7 separate regions of the Homo sapiens genome follow, and regions 1, 3, 4, 5, 6 and 7 are each linked to region 2. The links come from fine-mapping of genetic effects on gene expression. A gene starts in region 2. Each other region holds a variant in brackets. All regions are shown on one strand. Distances are between the middles of the regions.

Region 1 (4,069 bases), 160 kb after region 2:
TGCCACCCAGGCTAGAGTGCAATGGCACGATCAAAGCTCACTGTAGCCGTTATTTCCCAGGCTCAAGAGATTTCCCACCTCAGCGCTCCCAAGTAGCTGGGACCAAAGGCGTGCGCCACCACATTTGAGTTTTTTTTTTTTTTTTTTTTTTTTAAGTGGAGATGAAGTCTCGCTATGTTGCCCAGACTGGTCTCAAATTCCTGAGTTGAAGTGATCTTCTTGCCTCAGTCTCCCAAAGTGTTGGGATTACAGGCATGAGCCACCACACTTGGCCTGAAAATATTTTGAAAACTTTAAAAATAAAAAAAAAGAAGATAGCTTGGGGCCACCCTGAATATCGTTATGAGACTCACCTCTGTATGTTTTATAGTAAAATATTATTCATTTTACTCATAAATCATGTTCAAGTGATATTTGAGTGGAAATGTTTTTCTTTCAGCAAATTCAGAGGTAATATCAAGGAGCATGATCTGGAGAAGGCAGCGTGGGTCAAATACTAAAATCTGGACTTACTGTCTCAGCAGTTGGCAAGCAACCAAGGTGAAGCTAGTGCTGTGGAAAGTCCCCAAAGGACCAGAGCAGATATACTCAGTGTCCTTTACCTCTACAGCTCCGCATTTTCAAACTCCCCCACTTGTCCTTCAGTCCATCCTCTAAATACTGTTCTTTCTCAGCTTGTGTTCTCACTCATCATCTCTTCTCATGCCACCTGACCTCCTTATGTGAGGTTCTTGGCATCAGTCATCAGATTTACCCTGACAACTCCCACGGATACATGATTAGCTCTGATATCCACCGGGGTTTAAAGAACTGTTGCAAATTCTTCCTGATTACCTCCTCTTAAAGGCACCTCAAATTCAATGTGACTGAAACGGAGCTCTTCCCCTGTATATCAGCTGTCAGTTCTCATTGCTTCAGCACCTAGTAAATTCTCTCACCAGCTCACTCCTTTCAGACTACTCCATAAAATCAAGAAAAGCCTAAAATGGCCAAAAACTAACCTATCCTGCATAATCATCGCTTGTAATTTTGCCCACAACTTCAGTAGTTTGACGTAAAAGATGTTCCATTCTTTACCACTGAGTAAAGAAGTTAAAAATGTTCCGTAATTTCGAATTCCTCTTTGTTCTAAGACTTTACTCTCACCTCCGGGTTCACAGCTAAGCTCCCCCATGACTGATACCGCTGAAAGTCTTGTTTCAACAAAACATTCATGTATATGTAAAAAATAAATCATCTGACAAATTGAGAATTGCTCAATTTGAAAAACAGATTCAGTGATAAAGACAGAGGTCAATATTAAACCTATGAGTAAGGTAAAGAAATGGGCGGGAAGAAAAATAACCCCAAATCGTTGACTTCCCAGAACCCAGAGGCTAATAGGACTCTCACTTCCTGCTTGAGGTGAAAGCAAGCAAAGGCACCTCTGTTCCTATCTTGTCTTGGTCAAAAGATAAATATGAATTATTATTCTTTTCTTTTTTCATCAGTAAAGAACTTTCCATCACCCTTTTGGCAACTTTCTGCACCAGCCACTTCCCCCTCATAACTCCAGTCAACCGTTCTCACATCTGAGAAAAATAGGTGGAGGATATTTCCAGGAGCCTCTGTTGCTGAGGTTGCCCACAGTCAGGTAAAAGTG[G/T]GAGAAATTTCTGAACCACCAAAAACCTGTTCCTGAGAGACAGAAGTAGAAAAAACTTACACATATTTTTAAAAAAGAGAAGTTGAGGTGTAGGGGGATGGTGACTCAATAAAACTTCCTCCCATGATAAAATAAAGTAAAATAAAATAAAGTGAAAGTGTCTGCCACTACATTCTCAGAAGCCAAGCGTAGTCTTTTTATAGCCACCTCAGGGAGTATCTTCAGGATCTCCAAGCATTTAGATATTCCCAACTTCCACATATTTAGCACCTGGGGTGACAGGAAGGGTGTGTTCAACTCCATTAGCAGTATCCTTTGGAAAGGAAGCTGGGTGCACTCTTTCAGAACTGCTTAACATTTCCCTTTTAAAAAGATAGATCGGTAGAATTTAGTGAATTTTCCATATAGCTTAATTTCAATTCCATGTAAGAGCAAAATAACAAAATGGTCATATTTCTTTTATATTTGCTTTCTTCTTTTCTGAGCAGTTGGTGAGAGAGAGGTTGGTTTCTGGGAAGGTGATAATTTGGAGTCTTATTTTTTTTCTGCCCATTTCATATTATAGATTTAATATTGGCTCTGGATCATTGAATGTATTCTTCAAACTGAATGATGCTAGTGAGATGACTTCATTTATACATACATTGATACTTTATTTAAAGGCTCATGTTTTGTTAAGTTCTGTCTTAGGAGAAAATGACCCATGCTTTAAATAGTAGTACGTATGCTTCAGGAAAAAACATATGGTCATCACAATCTCACCATCTACTCTACCTGCTGAGATGGATGTTGGTTTAGGCATCCAGGTTCAAGCTCTGATTTCTATGTTTCTCAAATTTTGTTGTGTAGATGTTACATAATAGATGAAAGGGAGAAAAAGACTTCAAATTAGTCCACTGTGACTTGATTGCTTTGGACTGGAAAGGGCAGAGGGTCAGTAAATAAACAGAAGAGCTGCTTCTGTGCAAAGAGAAAGAGGACAGAAGCCAATGTGGGCTGCACTAAGAGTGAGCTTGAGTCAAACTGAGCAAAGGGAAGGCAACTCCTTTTCTGGTGAGACAATTATAGGAGTCTCAGGGAAAGAAGATTTTAGGAAGTATTTCTCTGCATCAGAAGTAGAATGTTCCTCTAGAATTTTTCAGGACACCTCATTAGAGATTTAAATTGCTTTCAGTTGCTGTTTGTGGGTATTGTACTGTCTCTTCGATTGCTGTAGGATACTGAGGTGGGCTCTAAAGGAGTAGCAAAAGCTCTGCCTGTTTATGGCTCAGTCCCATCGCAGTGGGATTACATTCTCCTTAAGAACTCAAGACACTTGAAAGTCACGTCAACATTTTAGGCCCTGCCTGTACTGAGTTAAATAATTTATTTCAACATAATTTGTTACTTTCGTTGTTATTATACTCGTATTTATTATTAAGTGATTATAATGTAGAAGGAATTGTGCTAAGTGTTATGCATGAGGTAATTTGATTAATCCTTCTACAATCTGAGGCTGGTGCTATTTTTATCCCCATTTAAAGACTGAGGACACTGAGACACAGATTTGACAGTCTGGCCAGTCCTACAGCAAATACGTGCCTATGCCAGGGTTCAAATGGAAGATGCCTGACCTCTAAGTCTAAGATTTTAGGCTTTGACTCAAAGGATCTGCTCAGCTTATGTGCAGAACTCCTAAAAATGAAACCATAGAGACAATTTTGAATTTAGAGTTATAAAACTCACACTTAGGTTTTTAAAAGCACAGTCATGAATAATATATCCTAAAATCCTGTCTTTAAATGGACTGGACTAGTTTTTCACAGGGAAAGTGATATTACTGTCCTCTGGGGGAAAAGTGATACTTTGATCTCATCACTAGAACTTCCTCCTAAAAGGATATGTCCAGAAAGGAATTAGAAGTTGAAAATGTTTCCTTTTACCTTAAGACTATTCCATACACCCTTCTAATTAAATAGGATGATTTTATGTTAAAAGGTTTGCTTATTCTCATCTCTTCCCAAATCTAAGAGATCCAGAAGACAATCTGGAGTCTGACACCGAGCCTCCCTGTCATTCATCATCTTTGAAAGTCACGTGTTGTGAAATGTGTATCAGTTACCCTCAAGATACAAGGAAATGGTTCAAAGAGACAGAAGGAGTTCTATTTTTCAGTTTCTCTTTTTGCAGCTTCAAAATTTGGCTTTTGGATTCCTGCAGGTAGATTTTGAAAACAATATGTTCTTCCAGGGGGCTAAGAAAATGAACGAATATGTGGGGAAAAAAAAGGGTGTTTCCTTTTTTTTTTAGATTTCAAAGTAACTAGTTTTCTTTCCATTCGTGAATGCATACATATATACATACACACATGTGCACACACACACACTCTCCAACTTCTACTCTGCCCTCCCCACAATGATATATAAATGCATACACAAATACACACAC
Region 2 (4,069 bases):
GTTCACAGATATTTATTTTGAAACCATGATCGTCAGGCCTCCATGATAAAGCATGTGCCTAAAAGGTGTTCTGGCTTTCACTTTGGAGATTTGGAAACAGTCTCAGGGACCAGTAACTTGCCCAAATTCTTGCAGGTTTCATAGCCATGACAGCTCTGGCAACCCTAAGGGTCTAAGGGATAAGATTTCTAAATCCACTTCATACAACTAACAGTGGTGCTCAACCATGACTCACATTAGAATCACCTGGAAAGCTTTTTTAAAAATACTAGTGCCTGGCCTCTACCCTATAGCAATGAATCCAAATTTTTGGTATTGGGGTCCAGGCATTGATTTTTTTTTTCTTTTTAAATAAAAACACTCAAAAAGCCAAAAATTTCCTCAGGTAATTTTATTACGCAGTGTAGGTTGAGAAACACTGATTATGCCATAGACCTGAGAATATGATTAATTGGGTTGTTGAATCAGGGTGATCCATAGCTAATGGGTTCTCAAACATTCAGTTCATGTGGTATTTCATGACCTGAAAGCAAATGCAGACAAGTTTTTTGTGTCTTATTTGAAATGCTGTTGTCAGACAGTATCATCTTTTCCAGCTATTCTTCTCTTTTCATTTTCAGGTGACTCATGCGGAAGAGTGTGCTTGCTTCATGTTGCAACTTAGTCCTTCACATGGTTGTCCCAATGCCCCATTTACCTTTGTGGCCATTGGCACAGCCTGGAAGTTTAGAACAATGCAAGTCATCTTGACATCTAAAACGTGATTTCTGGTAATGCCTTAGGAAGTAGTTTCAGGTTAATTTGTATTTCCAAACCGCCTCGGACTCCTTCCTGAAACAGATTAAAAACTGCGTATTGGCAAAGAGTGAGGGGAACTAGGTGAGGGGGATTGGGCTAACACTGGCTCCTTGTGATTAGTCCTGATTTAAATGCTGGAAATGACAATGGAGTTTGTTTATGGCTTTTCTCACCCTGAAGATATCTTTACAGGAATATTTATTTGAACACTAACTGGGTAAAGATTTACAGGGGCTCAAACAATTCTTTTTCAAGGAGCTGAGGGCCTAATTTTTATCATACACATCAATACATTTTTTTCCTTACAGGAAATGTGTGGGTGTCTGGGCTTTTAAAAATTGTATATCATACTCTTCTTTCTTGCCTCAATGTTGCTTTGATAAAATGATTTACTTGAATCTTAAACTGATTATTTACCAGCTATAGGACTTGGGAAAAATTGCTTAACTCCTATGAGACTGGGCACAATCATCTCTGAAGCAAAGACAGGGTTATCTGTGGCTTATTGTGGTTGCAGAAATTAAAGAGATAATTTTCAAAAAGCACCTAGTACAAAGTCTGGGTTAGGTAGTTCTCCAATAAACATAATTTATCCTCTCTTCCTTCCTCTTCCGTCAAACAGAATATATTCTCCAGAAGAACCTGATATAAGTGGTGTGTACATAAATGAGAATTTGTCATTTTTTAATTTCCTCGAGTATTCTGTAAGAGTAGACTTTAATAATACAGTTTTATAATACAGTAATACAGTTATAATGTTTGCCATGTGCTTTACTATGAGAGTTGTTGATTGGATGGCTTGTCTTCTTTGGTAGAATTCAGTATCAGTGAGTGGAAAGGTTATTTTTGCATGTGGTTGGTCAGGCAACAGAGAAGTCACTCCATACAAGCAGCTTTCTACTCTGCATACAAGGTAGATCCAGTGGAAGTCACGTTGAGTGATGTGTTTGTGCAAACAGCAGTTAATGACCATGTAGGATATCCCATCATCAGAGCTCTATCCCAGCTGACTCAGAGTAGGATTAATCATGAAAGCCTGGATTTAGATGTGTGTCTGAAGATACATGTGTGCTGGGAAAGAAATTAGGCTGGACTTTTATAAAAATTGTTACAAAGAAGCAACAATAATTAGAATAGAAAAAATGGCCTTCAGCCATTTAGTGTCCTGGTAGACATGAACCAACACAGCCCACTTCAGGCTGGCAGATGTGAGAGAATCTGTGGAAGGGAGGCTTGAACCGTCTTGAAAATATTTCCCAAAGCCTCTGCTGCTGGGATACTGGTCAGAAGTGCCCCAAGTCTGTTTATCTGGAGACATGGAACGCTTTATTCAAGGACCTGTGGAGAGAAGGCAGACAAGACTGTAGAGTCTGCACTCTCATCCTCTTGAGGGCACACCTTATTTACAAAAGGAGATTTAGATTACTTGATCCCATAAATCTTGGCATAGAGAAACTCAAAGCAAATATTTATTCTACAAGGATGGGTTAGCAGTGTTAAGGTACTGAAATTTACCTTGTACAACTTTAAAGAAGTTTATTGAGTTGTTAATGGAATAGCATTACCTATGATTAACTAATGTTGAGAAACTGTTGGCAGGTTCCTGGTAAATATTTAACAACACTTATGAATCAGACAACAGAAATGGAATAAAATTCCAAAAAAGCTGTAGTTTTTTCATTTGGCTTGAAGTCAGTATAGAGAAGTTATTTAAAATAAGATTTTCGTCCCACGGAATTGTCCCCTTTGTTATTGTATATCCTTCAGGTTTATGGGACAGCACTAGAGGAAAGTGACAGCCTCAGAGGACCTTCAGGTAAGCTGGCTCCATTTTGGTGACATACATATAGAGGCATAAATACCTGGTTTTTACTGAGAATACCCTGGATAATTATTAAATTGGATTTGGACTAAGGAAGAAAAGGTCTTCTTGCTTTTCATTTTCTCTCTCCACATGAATGTATGTATGTGTGTGTATGTATGTATGTTTTTATAAAAATATTTGAAACTTTGAGCTCCTGAAATCCTAGACTTGGCTTCCTTGAACATGATTGTTTTCTGTTGAAAATTCTTTTCATGCCAATTCTATCTGACTAGTTTCAACTCTTCGATAACCAGGAGTCTGTAATAGATGATGTCATAGGGGTCTAGAATATTGGCATCTGACTTCAAACAAGAGATCAAAACTAATTTCGAGACAAGTTCCAAGTGTGTTCGCTAACTGCTATAAAGAGCACTAAACATTCATGATTCATTTAACTGTGTCTACACCACATAGAATGAGTGGAGACTTGCTACTTTTCTAGTCATTTATTATCCACCTATGCTGACAGATCCCATTAATCAGACTAGTTGGTTAATTGACAGATCTCCATTTTGCTTTTTGTTTATAGATAGTTCTGGTGTATAGATGCCAAACGTGGTATTCTATCATTGTGCACGATTCTTAAGATGACTTTTGGCCAGTCTAAACACTGCCTAGGAGTTGTTTATCATGCTTGATTTACTACTCCTCCTGAAGCATGTATACTATTAATTTCTGCTTGAGAATTTCCAACAAAGCAAACATTTACACAAAGAGGGTGATTCCCTTCTGGCTGTAGGGATGGATCAAGACAGTGGTACCAAAATAGATATGACTGTGTCCAAGTTCCTGAGACTTTAATCACATTTAATCACTGTACAAGTTGTGCTGGGAGGAAGGAAGATGTGGTGTCTCTCTGTGGCTGCACAATATATCTTGTCAACTCTTCAGCGAAGCTACGTACATGGCTGCAATAAAAGGGCTACCGTGTGTGTGTGTGTGTGTGTGTGTGTGTGTGTGTGTGTGTGTTTGTATTTTTCCAACTTCATTTACCAGTTTTTAGTAGAAAGCCGTATTTTGTGTATTTAAAAACACTGAGAATTGGGCAAGGCAAAAAAAAAAAAAAAGATGTTAGGATAAAGGAAAATTTCCCACAGGAATTACCAAGAATTTATCCCACAGAGGAAGTCCTTCTCAATTGCTTCTTGCTCATGGAAATATTTTCACCTGCCTTGCCAAGGCCTTGATACTGATATCTGGAAGGTATTAAGCAATCCAGAAAGTTTATTCATCAACTTTGATTCATCTTAATAAGAGAGCTTAGAAATCAAAGTTATTTCCCTCCTTCCTGCAAAAAGTTCAGGATTTGTAATGCTAAATGGCTTGCTCCCTACTTAGAGCAAATACTTTAGTCAAATTTGATATATTGACTCATAACCCACACATTAGAGCCAAACATGTCCTGTT
Region 3 (4,069 bases), 110 kb after region 2:
TTGGGTTCTTGTTCATGAAGTCTTTGCCTAAGACAATGTCTAGAAGGGTTTTTTCCATGTTATCTTCTAGAATCTTTATGGTTTCAGGTCTAAGGTGAGAGATGAGGATCCAGTTTCATTTTTCCACCTTTGGCTTGCCAATTAACTCAGCACCATTTGTTGAATACAGTATCCCTTCTCCACTTTGTTTTTGTGTTGCTTTGTCAAAGATCAGTTGGCTGTAAGTATTTGGCTTTATTTCTGGGTTCTCTATTCTGTTCCATTGATCTATGTGCCTATTTTTTACGAGTACCATGTTGTTTTGGTGACTATAGCCTTATAGTATAGTTTGAAGTCAGGTAATGTGCTACCTTCAGATTTGCTCTTTTTGCTTAGTCTTTCTTTGGCTATATGGGCTCTTTTTTGGTTCCACATGAATTTTAGCTTTTTTTTCTAGTTCTGTGAAGAATGATGGTGGTTTTTTGATGGGAATTGCATTAAATTTGTAGATTGCTTTTGGAAGTATGGTCACTTTCACAATATTGATTCTACCCATCCATGAGCATGGGATGTGTTTCCACTTGTTTGTGTCATCTGTGATTTCTTTCAGCAGTGTTTTGTAGTTTTCCTTATAGAGGTCCTTCATCTCCTTGCTTAGGTGTATTCTTAAGTATTTTATTTGTTTTGCAGCTATTATAAAAGGAGTTGAGTTCTTGATCTGATTCTCAGCTTGGTCATTGTTGGTATATAGCATTGCTACTGATTGTGTACATTGATTTTGTATCTGGAAACTTTCCTAAATTCATTTATCAGTTCTGGGAGCTTTTTGGAGGGGTCTTTAGGGTTTTCTACATATATGGTCGTATCATCAGCAAACAGTGCTAGTTTGACTTCCTCTTTACTAATTTGGATACCCTTTATGCCCAGACAATCTAAGGTCACATACCTCAAGGAATTAGAGAAACAAGAACAAACCCAAACTCAGCAGAAGAAATAACAAAGAAAGATCAGAACAGAACTAAATGAATGAAAAAGCTTGTTCTTTGAAGATAAACAAAATTGATAGGCCATTAGTGAGATTAACCAAGAAAAGAACGAAGTTCCAAATAAGCTCAATTAGAAATGGGAGACATTATCACTGATACCAAGAAATGCAAAAGATCATTCAAGGCTACTGTGAACACCTAGAGGAGTTGGTTAAATTCCTAGAAATATACAACCCTCCTAGATTAAACCAGAAAGAAATAGAAACTCTGAACAGACCAATAACAAGCAGCAAGATTGAAATGGTAATTTAAAAATTGCCAACCAAAAAAGACAGATTTACAGCTAAATTCTACCAGACATTCAAAGAAGAATTGGTACCAATTTCCAAAAGATAAAGAGGGAATCCTCCCTAAGTCATTCTATGAAGCCAGTTTTACCCTAATACCAAAACCAGGAAAGGACATAAAAAATGAAAACTACAGACCAATATCCCTGATGAACACAGAGGCAAACATTCTCAACAAAATACTATTTTTAATAGACTGGTAAATTGAGTAAATGTTGAGTTCTGTAAGCTATTCTAGCAAATTACTGAAACTGAGATGAGAGTTATGGAAACTCCCAGTGTATAGCTGGTCAGTCAGAAGTACAGGAGGCTGGGACTTGCTATTGGCATGTGAAGTGTGGACAATCTTGTGGGATCTAATTTCTGATAGATAGTGTTAGAATTTAATTGCATTTTAGGACACCAAGTTGGTGTCTGCTAGGAACTGGAAATAAACCCTACACATTTGGTATCAGAAGTGAAGTGTTATTTACAGGAAAGACCATTTAAATAGATAGATAGATAGATGTCTTTTGGGGTAATCCAAAACTGGTTATTGGAATGTCCTCCCTGGGGGAGCTAGGTGGGCCTGCAAGGAAAGCCTGCTCACCGCATAATTCCTTGAGCTGGAAGAAGCACTCTACTTGCCCCCAGGGC[G/A]GTCCTTTTGGTTGATGTATCAACAAGCAGACTCCCACCTAGCTATCTTCTGTGGTGGTCTCAGGATACTCATGCATCCTTGTGAGACGGAAGTGGGAATCCAAAATGTGTCACTGCACCAACCTAGTTTCCTGTCTTTCCCATGCTCTAATGCGTATAGGTCACCAAGTCTCCTGCAATACAATTATAGAGCATATTCCATGCAATATGTCTAAATATGTGAATTATCAACCGTTAGCACTTAATATGGTATAAAAATAGAGGAAATGAATAGATATTGGTTGAGAGAACAGAGGTTTAGTTATTCAACAACTCTTTATAGACAAAGATGGTTCTCAAATCAGAGCCACAGTGCTCCCATCTTGTTCTATTTTCATTGCAGAACAACATCTGTTCATTTACATGGTGTATTATATATATACTGAGACTGTAATTAAGGCACCCACAGCCTTCTCCTCTTTTGGCCAACCAACATCATTTCCATGGTCCCTTCCTCTTAAGCCTGGGTTTCCAACTCTTTAATCATCACTGCTCTCTTCTAGATCCAAATGTCCCACTTACTTTTAAACTGTGGTGACCTAAACGGAAAGCTATCATAATGATGCTGTAAAAGTTTGGCAAATTTCAGCAGAAGCCAACATCTGTTTGGTCCTTTCTCATTATCTTCTTGCTGACTTTTCATTAAAGAGTTTTGGAAAAGCTGTAAAACGTATTTTTGAAATTAATTCAACAATATCCATTCTGGCCCAAGTCTCTGCATGTATACAATTTTTATGCACAAATTGATTCATAAATGAAGGGTTTTTAAGCTTACACATATAAGCCTTTATACAATATTATAAAATATTTTGCATGTTCTTTTTTTATTTGTAGTTTTGACTGTATTAATTTAACAGTGGCATGGCTTTTGAATAAATTATTTTAACTTAATGTTTTTATTTAAACCTTTCCCTTGGTATATACACATTGAATAAGAAAAAGAACAGTGTTACATGCACTTACCATGTGCCAGAAAAGGGTTTTACATGTACTAACTTAATTTTCATAACAACTCAGTGAGCCAAGTACTATTGTCATCTCTATTTTTCAGATGATGCAGTTTAGGGAGAGAGAGGCTAAAGATTTGCCGAAGATAAGCCCAACAAGTGAGGGTCAGAGGTGGAACCTAAGAGCAGAGACTGTAGGGCGAGGCTTCTAGTGTCCATCATGATATGCTGTTGTATGTACATGAACACCTGGGTGACTGGCCCTTTGGTAGAACCTTTTTATTGGTGATCATGAATATACACAAGCAGAAGTTTTCTTTGTGTTTAAAGATGATTTTTCTAATATAGTAATCATACTTGAGTACTGATGCTGGTTTAACTGAAGAAATGACTCATGACTATTTCTTTATGGTTGTACTTTCTAAGCTCCCTTAAAGGTTTCATTTATTTTTTTGTTCTGAGAATATAAATCCTACAGTTGGTAAATTTAACTTTTTTTGTTCAAATATTGAGCTCAGCTTGCCATTGTGAATAGCAAATGTAGGAGCCTCCACGAGCCCTATAAAATTAGCCCAGGCAGCTGTGATGTACATTTTAGGCTACCTACAAATACAGAAGAATGCTTTTTGCCCTGAGTATAATTCATTTCAGAGTGAGGTTTCCAGAAGAGATGGTACTATTGTCACTACCCAGGTCTTCCTGTAGGGCTTTCGGAAACTGTATTGCCCTTTCAAAGAACTCTTGATACCATTCTGAGAGGACTGTCTACACTATGAAATTAGTGGTGTGGTGTATCTATACCTCAATAAACTTGCTCCAGCTACACCTATTTGTTCCTTCAAGTTTTCTTTAAACTTTAGGGAAAATAATTACCTTGATAAATAAAAATCATATCCCAGCTTACTTTATTTGCCTTAAAAAATTGAACATAATATTAAAAATTTCTCTAAAAAACCAAGACTAGAGGTGCTTTCTCTACCTATTTAAGAAGGTTATTTGAGAAAACCCACAATCCTGTCCCCAAATGTGCCTTTAAATTTACTATCTGTATAGAGTAGAAGAAAGCAATGCTTCTAGTCATAGATAAGCATTTCAAAGAAATTTTAACACGTACTCTTTACTCCCTAAATGTTCT
Region 4 (4,069 bases), 96 kb after region 2:
AATATATTTATTTGATAAATAAATAATTATTTAATAAATACATTTATTTATTGAATTTTCATCCTATACTATGTAATATTCATAACTATATAAAATATACAAATACGGAGTTCCCATTCTATGACTGCTAAATTAAGCACATCTAGATCAGCCTTTTGTCCATTTTTCATGTTTCCTTCCTTCTCTTAGGAAGAGTTGTGATTTCTGAAATGGTGGGAAAATTTTAATACCTACATTTCACCTCTACTTTTTCAGGGAGAGGTTCGTGAAGAAGTGATTGGGAAAGAGAGCAAGTCTTGGTTGGACAGTGTGGTAAGTCAGCAAGGGTGAAAAGAGAGGGGGTCCCTGTCAACTATATATATAGTTCTTCCAGGGAAAGAAACATAGCCTCAAATTTGCTTTTCATCCTGTTCTGACATTGCAAGGAAAAAATAGTGAAACTCCTTGGACCACTTTTATAACTTGCAGTGTTCTCAATAACTTGCAGTGTTCTCATTGAGCTACATTTTTTTATTTGCTTGCTTCAAGGACTTAGAAGTCTGTAAAGTGCAAATCTACAAATAAAAGCTTAAAATCATAGAGTTAATCACAACAATAGGTGAGAAAGATATAGCACGCAGAATGCCAAACTATTAGCTGATTAACTGAAAATCTGTATGTATTTTTCAGCGGTTAGTGGAGAGATCAATAGAACACATTTAATTAGCCATGTGGTTTGTTTTACTGGTACTGGAGCTACATGTCTCTCCCACTCTGCCAGGCTTTTAGGACTTCACAAGCTTAATATATACATACACACATACATATTTTGTAAGTTTTATTTTATACACACACACACACACACACACACACACACACACACACATGCTTATGTATTTTGATTATCCAAAATGAGACTTAATATCCAAATCACGTTTAGTTACGTTGCTAAAAAAGTAAGAAAAACTAGCAGTCTAATTTCCATTCTTTAACGAGCAGGAAGATTGGGAACTTTTGGTTTCAAGTGCATAAAATGCACTGTTTTAATTCCTTCATATATTATGAAAGAATGTTTATATTTTATAAAAGATTAAAGCATGTTATGCATCTTAGAAAAAAGTGTCAAGAAAATATAGTTTTCATGACTTAGTACTTTACTGGATTTTTTTTTAAACTATCCATTTACTTTGGGAGAAATTTTATGTTAACAACTATTTTCTAGTCATAGCACAGATCTAGTAAGGTTAAAATATAATTTTAATTAACATAAGTAGGGTTCATAAATTTTCACTCAGGAAAAACAAGCTACTTGGGAAACAGATAACATTCTTAGATCTGAACACTTACCACATAAAATCCACATTGAAAAATAGCTAATATATATATTTTATTAAAGATGAAGTTATAATATATAAATGTAAAAAACAGCATGGCAGTAGAGCTGATGATTTTAAGAATGGTGGCAAGCTCAAGCTCAGTAGTCAAGTTCTAATACAGTTGATATTTAAAGTTCTAAGATCTGTGATATGTATATCTATATATAGAGATATCCTTTTCCTCTGCCAAACAGGAAGCTATAACCACAAGCTGTTGAATGCAAGTTACCTATTGAAAACTTACTACAACAGCGGTTCCCAACATTTTTGGCACCAGGGACCGGTTTCATGGCAGATAATTTTTCCAAGGACCAGGGTGGATGGGGGATGGCATTAGATTCTCATAAGGAGTGCGCAACCTAGATAACTTGAATGCAGAGATCACAATAGGGTTCATGCTTTTATGAGAATCTAATGCTGCCACTGATCTGACAATAGGCGGAGCTTGGGCAGTAATGCTGGCTTGCCTGCCACTTACCTTCTGCTATGTGACCCTGCTCCTAACAGGCCACGGACAGGTACTGGTCTAGGGCTTGAGAACCCCTGCCTTGTAATAAATAATTTATTTTTCTATTCTCCAAAAGATTCAATAGAAATGTGAGGAGGAAAACTGCAATTATTTCTGAACCTTCCCATCAGCCTTGTCTCTGATAGAATTGGCCTGTTGTGGACGGGCTTTGTGTAGATTAGAGAAAGAAGAAGATGCTCTTTTGGTGTAATTGTTCAGGTGAGTCCTTCATGTCAATTATTTCATTCTTGTTCTTGTTACGTTATTTGTATTAGTCTGTTTTCATGCTGCTGATAAAGACATACCTGAGACTGGGCAATTTACAAAAGAAAGAGATTTCTTGGACTTACAGTTCCACATGGCCGGGGAGGCCTCACGATCATGGCAGAAGGCAAGGAGGAGCAAGTCACATCTTATGTGGATGGCAGCAGGCAAAGAGAGAGCGAGCTTGTGCAAGGAGACTCCCATTTTTAAAACCATCAGATCTCGTGAGACTTATTCACTATCAGGAGAACAGCAAGGTAAAGACCCGCCCCCATGATTCAATTATCTCCCACTGGGTCACTCCCATAACACGTGGGAATTATGGGAGATACAAGATGAGATTTGGATGAGGACACACAGCAAAACGATATCATTATCCTTTTTATGG[A/G]TAAGTTACTAATCATAATATATAGTCATTTTTTCTGGAGGTTACTGTGAAATGACCTTCCCTCAGGCAAGAAAACCTAAATATCACAACCCTCAGATTTCATGAGTCCCTTTTATGTAGGAAAATAACTGATACTTTCCCTATCAAATCAATAATGTTCAGCCAAGGCATTTATTTTTTATTTTTATTTTTCAGGATGAAGGTAAAATCTTACAATTCAAAGTAACAATGTGGTTCATTTGACGAAATAATTACTGTGGACTTTAGGACCATTTATTCAAATTGCTGTCTTTGATTAACTCAAGAACTCTTGGTGCCTTTTTTCTTCTAACTTTCTTCAACAACTGTAATTAATCACAGAATTTGTCATCAATCTTTCCACCAAGGCCATGAATACTCTTTGAATGAATGACGATTCTTTCTTTGTGTTAAGTTTCTGTGCCCCAAGGCTATTAAAATTTCATAGTTTCTCCACATTCTTCAAAGCTTTCAACTTTTGTCTAAAAACAACATGACAGAACAAGATCTATTATCTGGGTTTATGAATTAATCTGCATTCAAATGCCTGGTGATTATAGCACTTAAACCTGTTTATCAAAGCACAGGGCTTTTGAAGAAAGTATTTCTGAAAGTTGTGCCTATAAAAATGGTAGAAAAGACTCCAAGACTCCGGTATGATCAAAGCATTTGGATCAGGCAGCCATTCAACCACGTGGACTATTGGGACAAGGATTAGGCCCCCACAGAGAAGCTAAGTTTATAAAATGATTCAGAGGAGCCAAAAGATCAGAAAATAGTAGGATTAGTTGTCTGTTTTATTGTTCTGGGATTCTGTTTCTACATTATGAAAGATCAAAGGGGTTTTCCACCTCTTCCCATGTTGATGTCTAGAACCTCCTTTCCAACTAGTGTGGTAAGGCTTATCAGTATATGATGAAGATTTGGGATTTTGCATCTGGCTTTTAAACTTCTTTGTGTAAACTGGACCTTTATCCCTTCACTTCATCCTCTTGATATGGAACATCCCCTCCGATCTTAATCTCTCCGTCTTTGCATGGCAACAAATCAGAATTGTTGCTCTTCTTTTCCCCTAATTCTCTGACATTTCATAATTCCTTTCTTCTGTGCTCTACCTACTGCCCTGCTCCCATAGTTCTAAATGACCTGTAGAAGGCCTACATCACCCATGCCTATCCTAGTATAGGATCAGTTGGCAGAGGGACTCCCTGCTTTCTCAAAGACTTCTCAACATAGAGAAATGCACAATAGAAGAGAAGGGGAAATATGGTTAAACAAAGTAAGGATTTAGTTTTTGGAGAACGTTCAAAAGAAAGTTGTGAAACCTATGGGAAAGGTTTAGAGGAAATAGTCTCACTAAGAGCTAATGGGGGCTAAAGATTGTTGTAGAGTACATGTCAAATTACAATGCCTGGAAGCAAAGCAACAGTCTGGTCCCCAAAATAATATGAGGAAAAATACATGGTCAAATTGTTATAAATTCCATGTTTTCATGGTAAAAATGTTGTAGTCAATAGGAAAACAATAGGTAAAACT
Region 5 (4,069 bases), 86 kb after region 2:
TTTGGCTGTTAGATTTTTTTTCCACCTGGATTCCAACTAGGAATTCACTTCAGGATAATCAGAAAGTGGAGTTAGCTGCTCAAAGAGCACCAACCGGAAGGAGAGAGCAGAGGGGCTGAGAGCACCGATGAGAGAGGAGGTCGGCCCCCTGCAGGATGTCTCAGGCATTTCTAAGCAGTGAGACAACTTTGGAGCAATACCTAATATTTTAACATTTGAGCCTTGCATCTTGGATTAGGAGGAAATCCAGGAGAAAGCCTCCGCAGGTGATTGGTGTGTGTGCATTGGGGTGAGCGTCAGGCTGGCTCTAGGTCCCTGTTGCTGCTCGCATAAGAGCTGGGCACCTCTGTCTAGGTGTAGGTCAGCCTCGCCCTTCTCTACCTTCTCCTCCGACTGCTGCAGCTGATCCTTCAGATTCACCGACCCCTGGGGCTCTTCTCTCTTCGTGGGGAATGAAGAGAAACTCTATTCACTTCTCATGACCAGCGCGCTCCCAGGAGAAATCCCACAGTAGGACTGGACCCTTAACTGCAGTCCTTTCCCTGTCAGGGTAGGCAAGAATGTTGGATGGGGAAGGTTAGAAGGACTGTTACGGGGTGTGGGTGGGGCTCCCACTGTGCCTGGACCCACTGTTCGCTCCAATTTACAAGTCTACTCCGAAAGTCTTCATCTTCTGCATCTTTATGGCCAGATATTTTTGTTTCATGTTGATTTTTGTTTGTTGTTTCCTTGAGGCTCTCTGTTGTCTGTTTGCATCCTGTCTGCTAGACAGGCCCACAGATGTCAGACCTGTTAATAATGACCTCCTAATCCAATTCATTTACTGTGTTACCAATAACAGATTTAGAAACATTTTTGTATATAACAAGGACCCATATTCAGAATGTGAACATTGAATCCCAATTTATCCCCAACTGTGACTGAAGCTGCACCAAACACACAAAGACAAATTGTGAACTTGGATGACACAAGGAAGGGACTCCAGGCTAGACTGGAACCAAGGCCCTGGTTATAGTCATCCCAGATTCTTTAGAGCAAATTCTAAACTATATCCCACAAACCCATTGTAAGTTGTATTTTCTTATCTACACCTAAATAATTGTTTAAATCAAATAGGCAGTAAACTTTGTGTAACCTGCTTTGCCATTATCAATCCTTTAGTGTCTTCACAAAGTTGAATTAAACGACCCATCTAGGTGTAGTTTTTTTCAGCAAAGAATCTCTTGCTCAGACTGAGCAAAATCACACCAGTGTTGCTTTAAGATGGCTTCCTTTGCCTGGTTGGCTTTATCTGATACCAGAATAGGATGAAGATACAAGTATTGTTGAAAATAACATGATGTGTTAAAATTTACAGATGGTATAATGTGTACCAATTAGCATTAAGAGGTCATTAATGGACATTAGAATGTTGTAAGAGAACGTGCCAAACTTTGCAAGTTGACATCATTGGGAGAAAAAAGCATTTGGGGCCATCATCAGAACGAAGCTCTTTTTAGCCTGCAGGACAATTCTAATGACTTAAAGAAACATGATAAGAGATTGGGGGCTCTCTGCTAGAGGTTTAATACCTCATTAGATCTGTTTTCACATTCCTATTTTATTTTCCTAGGATTCTGTAATCTTATATATTTTGTTGTACTTTAATTTTTAATACTGCTATTAGTAGCCACAAACATAAGATAAAACAAAAAATATTTTCTTCCTCTCTGGGTGACTTATACTTGAGATTACCCTGACACATGCAAAAGGGAAAGATAGAGGTAAGGATTGCTAAAGGACATAGTTAATTAAAACCGATAAAAATATAGGACCAATGAACGTGAGTCAAATCGGATGTCCTGAAGATAAATATAACTTCGAGCATGCGTTAGACAATGTACATGCTTGCACAACTTCACTGTCCCTGATGCCCAGCAATTCCAGGCTGGATCCCCAACTCCAGGATGACTTTACACGATACAGAATATAAATATCTCCTTGCTGTGTTTTGTAACAATAGTAAAAGGCTTTTGCATTTGTGACTTCTAAGTATATCTAAGAATCAATGTAGGAGGCTTTGTGTGCTGGATATTAGCTGTATCATCTTTGATGCAACATTTAAATTTCAACTACTTCCATTTCCTCTTAAGGTGAAAAAATTGTGCTGGATAGGCTCTAATGTTCATCCAAGCGCTACCATGATTCATATCAGAAGAAAGAAGTACACTTCTTTCTTTCCTAATAAAATTAATAGCACTTATATAATTTTAGTGTTTGCTAATGGATTAACACTAATACAAGTCTGCATAGAATATAAACAATTCAATGGAAATGCCAAA[C/G]CATTTAAAGATTTAAATATTCTATGGTCTATTGCACTGTATTATAAAGGCAATTATACTTTCACTTTTTTTCTGGGCCATTGAATTCAACCTGTGAGTATATTTTTGGTTAGAAAATTTGTTTTAAAATGAGGCTGGCAGGAGTTCAAGACCAGCCTAGCCAGCATGGTAAAACCCCATCTCTACTAAAAGTACAAAAATTAGCCTGGCGTGGTGGCACACAGCTGTGGTCCCAGCTACTCAGGTGGCAAGGCACAAGAATCACTTGAACCTGGGAGGCAAAGGTTGCAGTGTCTCAGGATCACGCTACTGTACTCCAGCCTGGGTGACAGTGCAAGTCTTAAAAACAAAAACAAAACAACAACCAAAAAAACCCAACGACAACAGAAAAAACCATGACTGGGCACAGTGGTTCACACTTGTAATCCTGGCACTTCAGAAGCTGAAGCAGGAGGATTGCTTGAGCTCAGGAGTTTGAGACCTGCCTGAGCAACAGAGTGAGACCTAATTTCTACTGAAAATAAAAAATTAGCTGGATGTGGTGGCACCTGTAGTCCCAGCTACTGGGGAGGCTGAGGCAGGAGGAGATCGAGCCCAGGTGATTGAGGCTGCAGTGAGCTATGATAGCACCACTGCACTCCAGCTGGGGCAACAGAGTGAGACCCTGTCTCCAGATAAATAGACACCTTTTTTCTTTACTTACTGGATTTCTGTGCCTTTGAGTCATGTAATATATGATTACTCAAGTGACAAAGGGCATGGTAAGGTAGATTTCTATCATAAAAATATACCCAGTTAAATTCTAGTTGACACATTATTAAAGATTCAGAAAATATATAATTCTTAAAATGAAACTTATGTTGAGATAAATGTAGATTCCCATGCACTTATAAGAAATAATACAGAAAAATCCTGTGTACCCTTAACTAGTTTTCTTCAGTGGTAATATCTTGCAAAACTACTAAGTACAATATCACAACCAGGATAATGACATTCAAAAACACAAGATACAGAACACTTCCATCATCACAATGATGCCTCTGTTGCCCTGTTACAGCCATACACATTTCCTCCCATCACTACATCCTTCCACACCTTCCTTAATGCCTAGTGACCAGTATTCTCTATTTCTGTGATTGTGTCATTTCAAGAATGTTATATAAATGACATACAGTGTGTAATCTTTGGGGATTTTTCTTCCTTCACTCAGTATAGTTCTCTGGAGATTTTCTCAGGTTGTTTTATTTAGCAATTGTTTGTTTTTTATTGACAAGTAGTATTCCAAGGTATAGATGTACCATGGTTTATTCACCCATTAAGAAACACATGGTTTTTTTTCTGTATGTGGCTATTATGAATGAAACTGCTATAAACATTCATGTACATGTTTCTTTGTGAATATTTTAATTTTTCTGGGACAAATGCCCAGGAGTGCAGTTGTATGGTGTTTGCATGCTTAGCTTTTTAAGAAACTGCAAAACAGTTTTCCACAGTGTCCAGGCTATTTTATCTTACCACCAGAAACATATGAGTGATCCAATTTTTCCACATTCTCACCAGCATTTGGTGTAGTCAACTATTTTTTATTTTAGCCATTCTGAGAGCTTTGTAATTATACTGTGGTATTAATTTGGATTTCCCTAACGGTTAATGATGTTGAGCATCTTTCCAGATGCTTATTTGTCATCTGTACACCATCTGCAGCAAAATTATTCTTCATGATTTTTGCCCATTTTCTAATTGGATTT
Region 6 (4,069 bases), 120 kb before region 2:
TGCTCAATTTCAGTGCATGAATCAACGGATGACAAATTAAGAGCCTAATTTGAACTTCCATCCTCATTTGGTTCATTGTGAAAAACTGCTGCTCATAACAGCTTGACAAGTGAACAATGATGCATACATCTGAGCAAAGTATGCTGATGTGTGAGAAGTAGCAGCAGCTATCAGCTTCCTATCAGCTGACTAGTGAAGGTCATAGTGGGACTAATATCCGATGCTAAAGGAATATTCTTTGAGTCTGAGTTGCCTGAATGTCCCCTGTTTTCTTTCTTGCTTTTTCTTTTTAACCTTTTAAAGAGATGGGGCCTCAGTCTGTTGCCCAGGCTGGAAAGCAGTGGTGTAATCATAGCTCACTGTAGCCTTGAACCCCTGGGCTCAAAGGATCCTCCCGCCTCATCCTCCCAACAAAGTGGTAGTACAGGCAAGTGCCCATTCCTTCTTTTCTGATCTCTCCTATTTCTTGAACACAGTGATGTCCTAGTGTTTAGTTACACTACCCCAATACAGCAATCAGTGCTGGTTCACTTACCCAAGATTTATTTTTCTTTTCTTGCATGCTGGCAGTACCCGTTTTGTGCCAATGTCCACCTCTTCTCCACATGAGTCAGATCTGATTTGTCAAAGCCAATTATGATCCTTCCGTTCTCTCAACAGTGACTTGTGGAGGATTGGGCAGGTGACCCAGTTCTGGTCAATAAATTGTGAAGGCACATCTGTTGGTATGTTTCCGTGAAAGCTTTTTCTCATTTTTAAATAAGAGATGCACAAGGGGAAAATGACCCATTCTTTTGGACTTTGGTGTGTCCGGATGTGGTGCTTGGAGCTGAGACAGCTTTCTTGGCATGCAAAGGCATCTTAGGCAGTCCACTGCAGACAGCAAAGTTGAGAGAGTGGAGGGAACCTGGGCCCTGATAGGGTTGCTGAACCATTGAATTAACTGGAGCTGCTTGTATTGGAACTTTTGTTATAAGAGTTAATAAATCTCCTTCAGCCAAGAACTTATTAAATATTAAGTAATTATTATATCTGTTTCTTTCCCTTTATTTTGAAAATGAAAAGGGAATGGTATGATGACATCTCTAAATTTCTTCCAGCCCTAACGATTGGTAATTCTTTGCTTGAAGTGGTTCTGTGGAGTTTCAAGATGCGATGCTTTAGCAGACATGGAATCTGGAGGGGGTGTGCAAACATTGCCTGAGTTAGGGTCGTTTGTGTGAGGTCCAGGAGGTAGAAGCAAGGTAAGGCGGTGCAGTTGAAGCATGAATTCCTAGGGACAGCCGAAGTGCTATGTCCTAGAGCACAGCAAAATCAGAAATCCATAGGAATAGCCAGACATTGAAGATAGTAGCTAGGAATCAGATATAAAACAAATTAGAAAAATTGTGATGAGATTTGCTTGCCAGCAATCAGAGCTCATGGCATGTGTTTAGCCTAGGGCCCTCTCAAGGTACCAAGCATGGATGAAGGGCCAGCAATCTCCTTGGGGACATTACCAGCATCTGGAATCCTTTGGCTACCCAGGTTTACTGAATTTCCTCCCTGGTCATTCATCCCGTGAGCTTCTATGCTTGGCCTGCTGCGTTTCACTGTCTCTGTCAACCTCAGGCAGCTGCTTTTCTTTCCTTTCCAGTTGTCCCTTTACTGAATATTTTCCAAATCTACGTTTCAGTTCTTGGTCTCGAGTGCATAGTAGTGCAATTCTTCAATTTTTTGATGTCCCGAACCTTGGAAAACAGATTTAGGTCAGCCACAAAATACAATAAAATGATGTTTACATTGGTTTCTCACATTTTTTAATCAACATTGCCACCTAGTGGTAAAATAATCCTTAAAACTGTGCACAATTATTTTCATTTGGGTTTGGATATTTGATTCAATGTCAAGGATCTTCAAATGGTAAAATTTTGAGCAAGAAGAGACCACAATGATTATTCATTTAAATGTATTGTTTTACACCTAAAGAAATTGAGGCTTAGGGAAAGTCATATGGTAACCAGTGTCTTTTAGGCTCATTAATTATTGCGCTAATACGGTAGGGTCCTCATTCACAGACTATCACTATTTTCCCCCCAGAAATTCTTAATTATTTCCTCTTGAGGTTTTGGTTGATCACTCAGTTTTTCTCCCTTAAGTTTTAAGATGTTCTTACTCAATTTAGCTATTTCCTGGTGGTAAGTAAAAAACAAAACGAAACAAAAACAAACAACAAAAATCAGTTTCAAATGAAGCAAGGTTGTGTATTACATTCTCTCTTTTTGACACATTTGTTTTGTCTTTTTCTCCCAAGTCTTTCTCAAGATGTGTCAATCCATGAGCATGTCTTCCTTTCTTGTGTACATTTAAATACAGGAAAAATATTCTAATACATCCTGTGTTCCATCCAGTCCAGCAGTATTTACACAGTTTTGGGCAGGTCTAGGGTAGAACCAGAGATTCTGAATTCACACCAAGCTTCCCAAAGATGACAAAACTCCTGTTTTGGGCTCACACTTTAAATTGTAAGGCTTTATAGAACAATGACTACATCCTTGAGAACTCAAAAT[C/A]TTTCTTCAGAATGGATGAGTAAACCGTGTGTTCTGTTTGGGCAAATGAGGAGCACAAGGGGAAATTCCTTTGCCTTAAGCAACGTCTCCGCTGAAGTGGCTAATTCCCTTTTTGGCTGCCATGGGGGTCATGTGCCCTGTGAAACTGCTGCTGCTTGCACTGCTTAACGAGACAAGGTCAGGGAATTTCCCTGCACTCTGTGATGACCATTGACCCTCTCCAGGGGTCCGTGATAACCGGGTCTGGAGAATGCCCTCCCAGGACATTCCAGGAGTGATCCTAGGCTAGGCAGTTGTATTAAAGTTCTAAATTTGGTTGCACATTGGGATCACCTGGAAAGCTTAAAAACATACTAATGTCTGGGTCCTGTCCCTGGATACCAGGGTTTTCAAAGCTCCCCAGGTAATTCCAATGAGTAGCAAGCCTGAGAACCACTGGAAACCTAAAGGCACGTAATGGGCCAAAGGACACCAGCTTGTCCCTCCCCTCCTCTCCTTTCTCCTTGTCACCAGTTTATTCTGAAACAAAGACTTCAGGATGCTGCTGGAAAGGGAATTCAGCTCCTAGCAGCTCTGGCTTTATTTACCCTCTCAGGCCCCTCCTCCCTCCTGCGCCCCAACTGGATGTGCATACTTTTTGAGGCAAGTCCAGTCCCTTCCCAAAGTTCCTAGGGTGGCCTTCATAATGCATTTTATTATGTCACACCCACCTGCTCTGCTAGGCCAGCCGAGGTCATGTGATAAGGCTGCTGCATCCCAAGGAAAGGGTTTCGGCTTTTACAAGGACAAGTGCTGGATCAGCCTGATCTCCTGGGAGTTATGAATCAGATGGTCTGAATGTCCTTGCGAGACTTGTGGAAAGAGAAATGTTATCCAGGTTTTTCCTTCAGAACTTTTCATAGGCGATCCTGGGAGCTCTGACCTAGAACTGAAATGACTTTTGATTTTGAAAATAATTAGAATTAATTTTGTAAGGCTGCTTCTCTCTCTCTCTCTACATATATATATGCTTCTAAATATATATATTTGTAAAATACAGTAATCTATGGGCTAGAAACTGTGATAAGAAGCTATAATAGAAATTTACAGTTAAAGAAATGATGGATAATGTGGGATTGTGGTTAAAGATCAGAAGAAAAATGCTTTGGTTCTCCAATCTTGACTTCTTGCATTAGGTATTTTGCTGGGGGAAGAGAGGGAGGGAGACAGAGAGAGAGAGAAAACTATATATATATATATGTGTTTAACAGGACATCTTTCTCTTGACTCTTCTGTGGTTTTGGCCCTGTTGTTAATCAAACCTTTTCCTTGAAACTGTTTTCTCGGCTTTCATGGTATCGCTACCTCCTGGGTTTTCTTTAACTGCCCCAGATGCTTTTCAGACTCTTATTCTTCTCCATTAAATGTAGAAGATCTCAGGAATTCATCCTTGGCTTCTCTTTTCCACTCCCCTGGGGAGGATATCACCCACAGCCCCCTCATCCCGGCTATCCTCATCACTGGGCTGATGCATGCGGCAC
Region 7 (4,069 bases), 61 kb after region 2:
TGAGGCCACCTCAGTTTTGGTTTCTAACAGTGAATTTTATACATGTCATATGAGCCGGTTTTCAACTAAACCATCCCAAACATGTCCTCCAAATTAGGAGGAAAACTAAGAAAATTAACATTGTATTTCTTTGCAATGGGGTAATGATAATCAAATAGCCACACATGTAATTTTATTATATTGATTATAAGGTAATTAACCAGTTCCACAGGTTCTAACAGATCCAGTGACCTTTTTCCTAACACAGTTTGGCAATCCCCTTCTCCTTGGTGCCTCTTTGACAGGCATTGCCATCCACATGTCTTTTCTATTATAACCCCCAGCCCTGACTCCCCCTCCAAACTCTTCATCTTCTGGTTTTCAAGTTACTCTACTTCCCATCACTGTGTGCTGTGTCCAGTCCAGTATGTTTTTCTCTTTGTACAGAAACAGCATGATTTGTTCCAGCTCCTTATCCCAATGTGTAGTTTCATTCTTACATTGGGATTTGATGCAAAAGATATTCACCCAGGTAAGGGAAGGGTCTTGAAGTTCAGACTCATTTAAGAAAATTGGCACACTTGCTGAATACCTTGACAGCTTTCTAAAGCAAGAATCATATCAAAAAGCAACAGTTTAAATTTTAGTTTTCACCAGTCTAGCTCCAGTTTCTTTTGCTAGGCTTCTGATTTGACAGCTAAGGCCATAGATGTTCTAGGCAGCCAAATTTGTCAAAATTTTAACAATCTGACCTCTAACAGAAAAGCTGATCTGTTACAGATTGAAAGAGAATACAATTTGAGATCCATGTGAATTCCTTTTTTTCCCCCCAAACTATTTACTCATTATACGTTTAAAGGTCACCAGTATACAGCGGTGTTTCAACTATCTGGGAATTTATTCACTGCTGGTAACCTAAATGCGGCCGCTCTGTTTTTCATTACTGGCTGGTATTTTTAAGTCTGAGCTCTGACCTTCTAACTTAGAACAAAATAACTTGGTTTCAACATTCTCAAACATGGCAAAGAGGTTTTTTATTCCCAAGATGACCACAGGAACCGATGTCATGGTATCTCCTTCAGTAACCAACATTATTCTAAACAAGAGACTCGTATTTTTGTCACATTGGGCTAAAGATGAAGCCACCTTTGCAAAATTATAACTCAGGAAATGATGACAGTGAAAGAAATCAGACCTAACTGCCTCCATCTTTCTTCTAACCTTTAAGCTGTCCTTGTTCATTCCTGAGCATAGGCTGAACTAACTTTGGGAAGGAAGTCAGTTCATGGTTTGACTCTGAAACACAATCGATAATAGTCCTTTCCTGAAAAGCCACCCCCCCCACCCTTCTTGCCTGGGGATCAGTCTATCTTTGCAGGACTAACAAATTAGCTACAAGATTAGAAATTACAGTTTAGGGGTCATGCAGCCTCTGGCTGCAAAAGTCTGAACCTCTCCAAATTGCTCCTGGGGATAACATCACTATTATAAAACTTAAGATCAGTGCTTGAGATATTTCGCAGACCCTACACTGGATGGATCAACTGACACCACCCAGACCGGTAATCTGGCTCAACCAGTTCTGCCATCCCACCCAGGAACAGAAAACAGCAAGAAAACCTCACATAGACCCCCTATGATTCCATCTCCAACCTGACCAATCAGCACTCCTCACTTCCCAAG[C/G]CCCTACCCACAAAATTATCTTTAACTACAGGAGACAGGAGTAATAATAAAACTCTGGTCTCCCGCACAGCTGGCACCGCGTGAGTTACTCTTTCTCCACTGCAATTCCACTGTCTTGATAAATCAGGTCTGTCTAGGCAGCGGGCTAGGTGAACCCACTGGGAAGTTACACTGATAGGTGAAAGTTTCAGTTGAAACATTGCCAAGTGTCTGTTGGAGCAGGATAATATTGTCTCTTTCAATAACTTGTTTTTATTCTCTCTTTAGAAACAGTTCTTTGGATGGAAGAATAAAGTTATCAATAGTTTTAGCTGCTTGGTGGGATCACATGTGATTTCCATTTGTTTGATGAGGTTTTTCCATGTTTTAAAACTTGTCACTGTAAAAATGTGGGGCTTTTTGTAATTAAAAAGAAACCTACCAGATATTACAATTATAATTAACGTTGTCGTTAGGCTTTTTTTTTTTCAAATGAGTGGTTTTTTATCTGTCATTCTGGGCAACGGTTTTGAGGAGGAAATTTGCCAAGACTGTAGGGCTTCTCACACTTTAATATGCATAGTAACCACCTGGGATGTCATTAAAATGCAGTTTCTGATCCAGCAAGTTTGGGGTGGGGCCTGAAATCCTGAATTCATCTTATGAACTCCTTGGCAATGCTACTGCTGCTGCTCTGATAACCACACTTTGAATAATACCGCTCTGACCCTTGGTTTTTTTAGCTGGCACCAAAATCACCTGGAGGGCTTGTTGAAATGCAGTTTGCTACTCTTCCACCTGCCCCACCCCATGACTGATTGAGTATATCTGGGGTTGGGCTTGATAATTTGCATTTCTAAACAGGTTTCCACGTGACATTGTTGCTGCTTCAGGAACCTCATTGTGGCTGCTGATCTAGAGCCCTGTTAATCAAAGCCTTGTTTCTGGACCACACCAGCATCACTTGGGAGCTTGTTAGAAATATAGAATCTTAGACCCTACTCAGACCTACAAGGGTAGAATTTGAGAAGCACTACTTAGTCTCTTTGTGCCGCAGAATCAACAACTCAGCTTTAGCTTGTTAGAATCAACTGTGGAACATTTAAAAATCCTGATGCCCAGGCTGAACCTGGAACAGCTTCATTAGAATCTCTGGGGCTAGGGCCAAGGCATCATTAGTTTCTAAAGCTCCCCAAGGGATTCCAGTGTACAGGCATGTTTGAGAACCACACTGTAGATGGAACTGAAAAATCCAGAGAGAGTAATCTTGTTTCCCAACAGAAGGAGACTTGGAGGACTAATTTTCCCTGTTGCCATCCTATTAGACAGTGTGTCATCAGCCACTGGACCAACAGGAAACACTTGGGGCCCAAGCATTAAATTGCTTTGATCACTGGATTTTTAGCAGCCTGCATACACATATCGGCTTTGTTGTTTGGCCTTACTTTGTTCTAGCTTCGTTACATACCAACTGGAGCTAACCTCTCCTGTACTCTGTCATCTCTGGGCTAAGACCTTAGAAATATAACCCATGGGTCATTAGCTTATTTCCCCACCTCACTTTCATTCAAAAGGTATATTCTCTATAAGATTTTAATGGGAACAGAAAGTTCTCCTGCATGGATAGGTCAGGATATAGATTAAGCTAGAGAGAGAAATAGTACATAATTTTACAGATATGAGATGATTTTTGCAATGTATTAAATAGAACAAAATACTGTCCTTGAGCTCATATTGGTCATTTTCCCTAAAAGCACAGTTAGGTTTTGTGTGGGCATGTGAGCTGGAATATTTGCCATTATAAGCCTGTCCTAATATTCTCCAGTTTTAAAACACTAGGCAAGCCAAGTGTTTGTGGTTGATGGTTGATTTTGGAAAAAGTCATTTATTACTCACCTATGAAGAAGTGTTACATTGTTATTTCCAAGGGTTATAAAGGCTACATTTAATTCTGGATAATGTTGAAAGGATGAGCTACCTTTCTACATACAAACCAAAGGAATTCCTGCGTGGATAAGAGCTGTGATCTATTTTGTTTTGGCAAGAAAAGCATAGTTTATGAAGAGAATTGAATTTATTCCAAATACCCTCCTCAGAGACGAGAAATATGTTTGAAATGTTGCTTCCTTTGTACCTCTGTCAACTTTTTAATTTATTTAAATTTTTTTGAATCACCTACTACTACCTGTCAGGCTAATGATTCCTGTAAGCTGATACCCATTGTCTGAATTCATAAGTTCCTTTCACTCTTCCTACATTTTCTTCCCTAGTAAGGTGGCACCTGTTGACCTTGCTGCCTGCCTTATTCCATAGAGGAGACTACTCCCAGCACCTTCTCAGGCGTCTCTTTCAGGCTGTGTGTTGTCCCTGTCAAGAAGCTCTCTATCTCTATCCTTATGCCATCTCCCCTGAGGACAGGAAGCACAAC

Alleles and levels. Alleles are on the strand shown, and positions count from the first base shown. SD is a standard deviation of normalised expression in the study named. Not every link is listed here.
As copies of G replace A in region 3, the expression in tibial nerve of the gene that starts at base 2,457 in region 2 goes up (small effect, 0.28 SD a copy in GTEx).
For the expression in unexposed skin of the gene that starts at base 2,457 in region 2, G is the high allele of the variant in region 7 and C is the other (moderate effect, 0.70 SD a copy in GTEx).

The links.
Region 1: its variant is fine-mapped to the expression of LINC02889 in blood mononuclear cells (TOPMed, PIP above 0.99).
Region 3: its variant is fine-mapped to the expression of LINC02889 in tibial nerve (GTEx, PIP above 0.99).
Region 4: its variant is fine-mapped to the expression of LINC02889 in sun-exposed skin (GTEx, PIP above 0.99). The same link has a PIP of 0.9 or more in lung, pancreas and visceral fat.
Region 5: its variant is fine-mapped to the expression of LINC02889 in tibial nerve (GTEx, PIP 0.98).
Region 6: its variant is fine-mapped to the expression of LINC02889 in fibroblasts (GTEx, PIP 0.97).
Region 7: its variant is fine-mapped to the expression of LINC02889 in unexposed skin (GTEx, PIP above 0.99). The same link has a PIP of 0.9 or more in sun-exposed skin.

What each region holds. Positions count from the first base shown.
Region 1 is chr7:17,399,678-17,403,746 of GRCh38, reverse strand. The region is part of intron 1 of LINC02888 (long intergenic non-protein coding RNA 2888); the gene reads right to left. Among named protein-coding and RNA genes, the nearest start is that of LINC02888, 27 kb to the right of the region's middle. The variant G/T (reference allele first, on the strand shown) is at 1,643.
Region 2 is chr7:17,557,297-17,561,365 of GRCh38, reverse strand. It overlaps LINC02889 (long intergenic non-protein coding RNA 2889), which reads left to right and starts at 2,457. Exons shown (of 4, transcript NR_110013.1): 1 at 2,457-2,614.
Region 3 is chr7:17,451,216-17,455,284 of GRCh38, reverse strand. All of the region lies in intron 2 of LINC02888 (long intergenic non-protein coding RNA 2888), which reads right to left. The region is part of intron 4 of LOC105375172 (a long non-coding RNA gene); the gene reads left to right. Among named protein-coding and RNA genes, the nearest start is that of LINC02888, 78 kb to the right of the region's middle. The variant G/A (reference allele first, on the strand shown) is at 1,949.
Region 4 is chr7:17,461,413-17,465,481 of GRCh38, reverse strand. The region is part of intron 2 of LINC02888 (long intergenic non-protein coding RNA 2888); the gene reads right to left. It overlaps LINC02889 (long intergenic non-protein coding RNA 2889), which reads left to right. Exons shown (of 4, transcript NR_110013.1): 3 at 256-312; 4 at 1,940-2,037. LOC105375172 (a long non-coding RNA gene) reads left to right here and starts at 2,344. Exons shown (of 6, transcript XR_001745108.1): 1 at 2,344-2,384. The variant A/G (reference allele first, on the strand shown) is at 2,516.
Region 5 is chr7:17,471,205-17,475,273 of GRCh38, reverse strand. All of the region lies in intron 2 of LINC02889 (long intergenic non-protein coding RNA 2889), which reads left to right. Among named protein-coding and RNA genes, the nearest start is that of LINC02889, 86 kb to the left of the region's middle. The variant C/G (reference allele first, on the strand shown) is at 2,322.
Region 6 is chr7:17,678,813-17,682,881 of GRCh38, reverse strand. No RefSeq gene overlaps it. Among named protein-coding and RNA genes, the nearest start is that of LINC02889, 120 kb to the right of the region's middle. The variant C/A (reference allele first, on the strand shown) is at 2,550.
Region 7 is chr7:17,496,166-17,500,234 of GRCh38, reverse strand. The region is part of intron 1 of LINC02889 (long intergenic non-protein coding RNA 2889); the gene reads left to right. Among named protein-coding and RNA genes, the nearest start is that of LINC02889, 61 kb to the left of the region's middle. The variant C/G (reference allele first, on the strand shown) is at 1,663.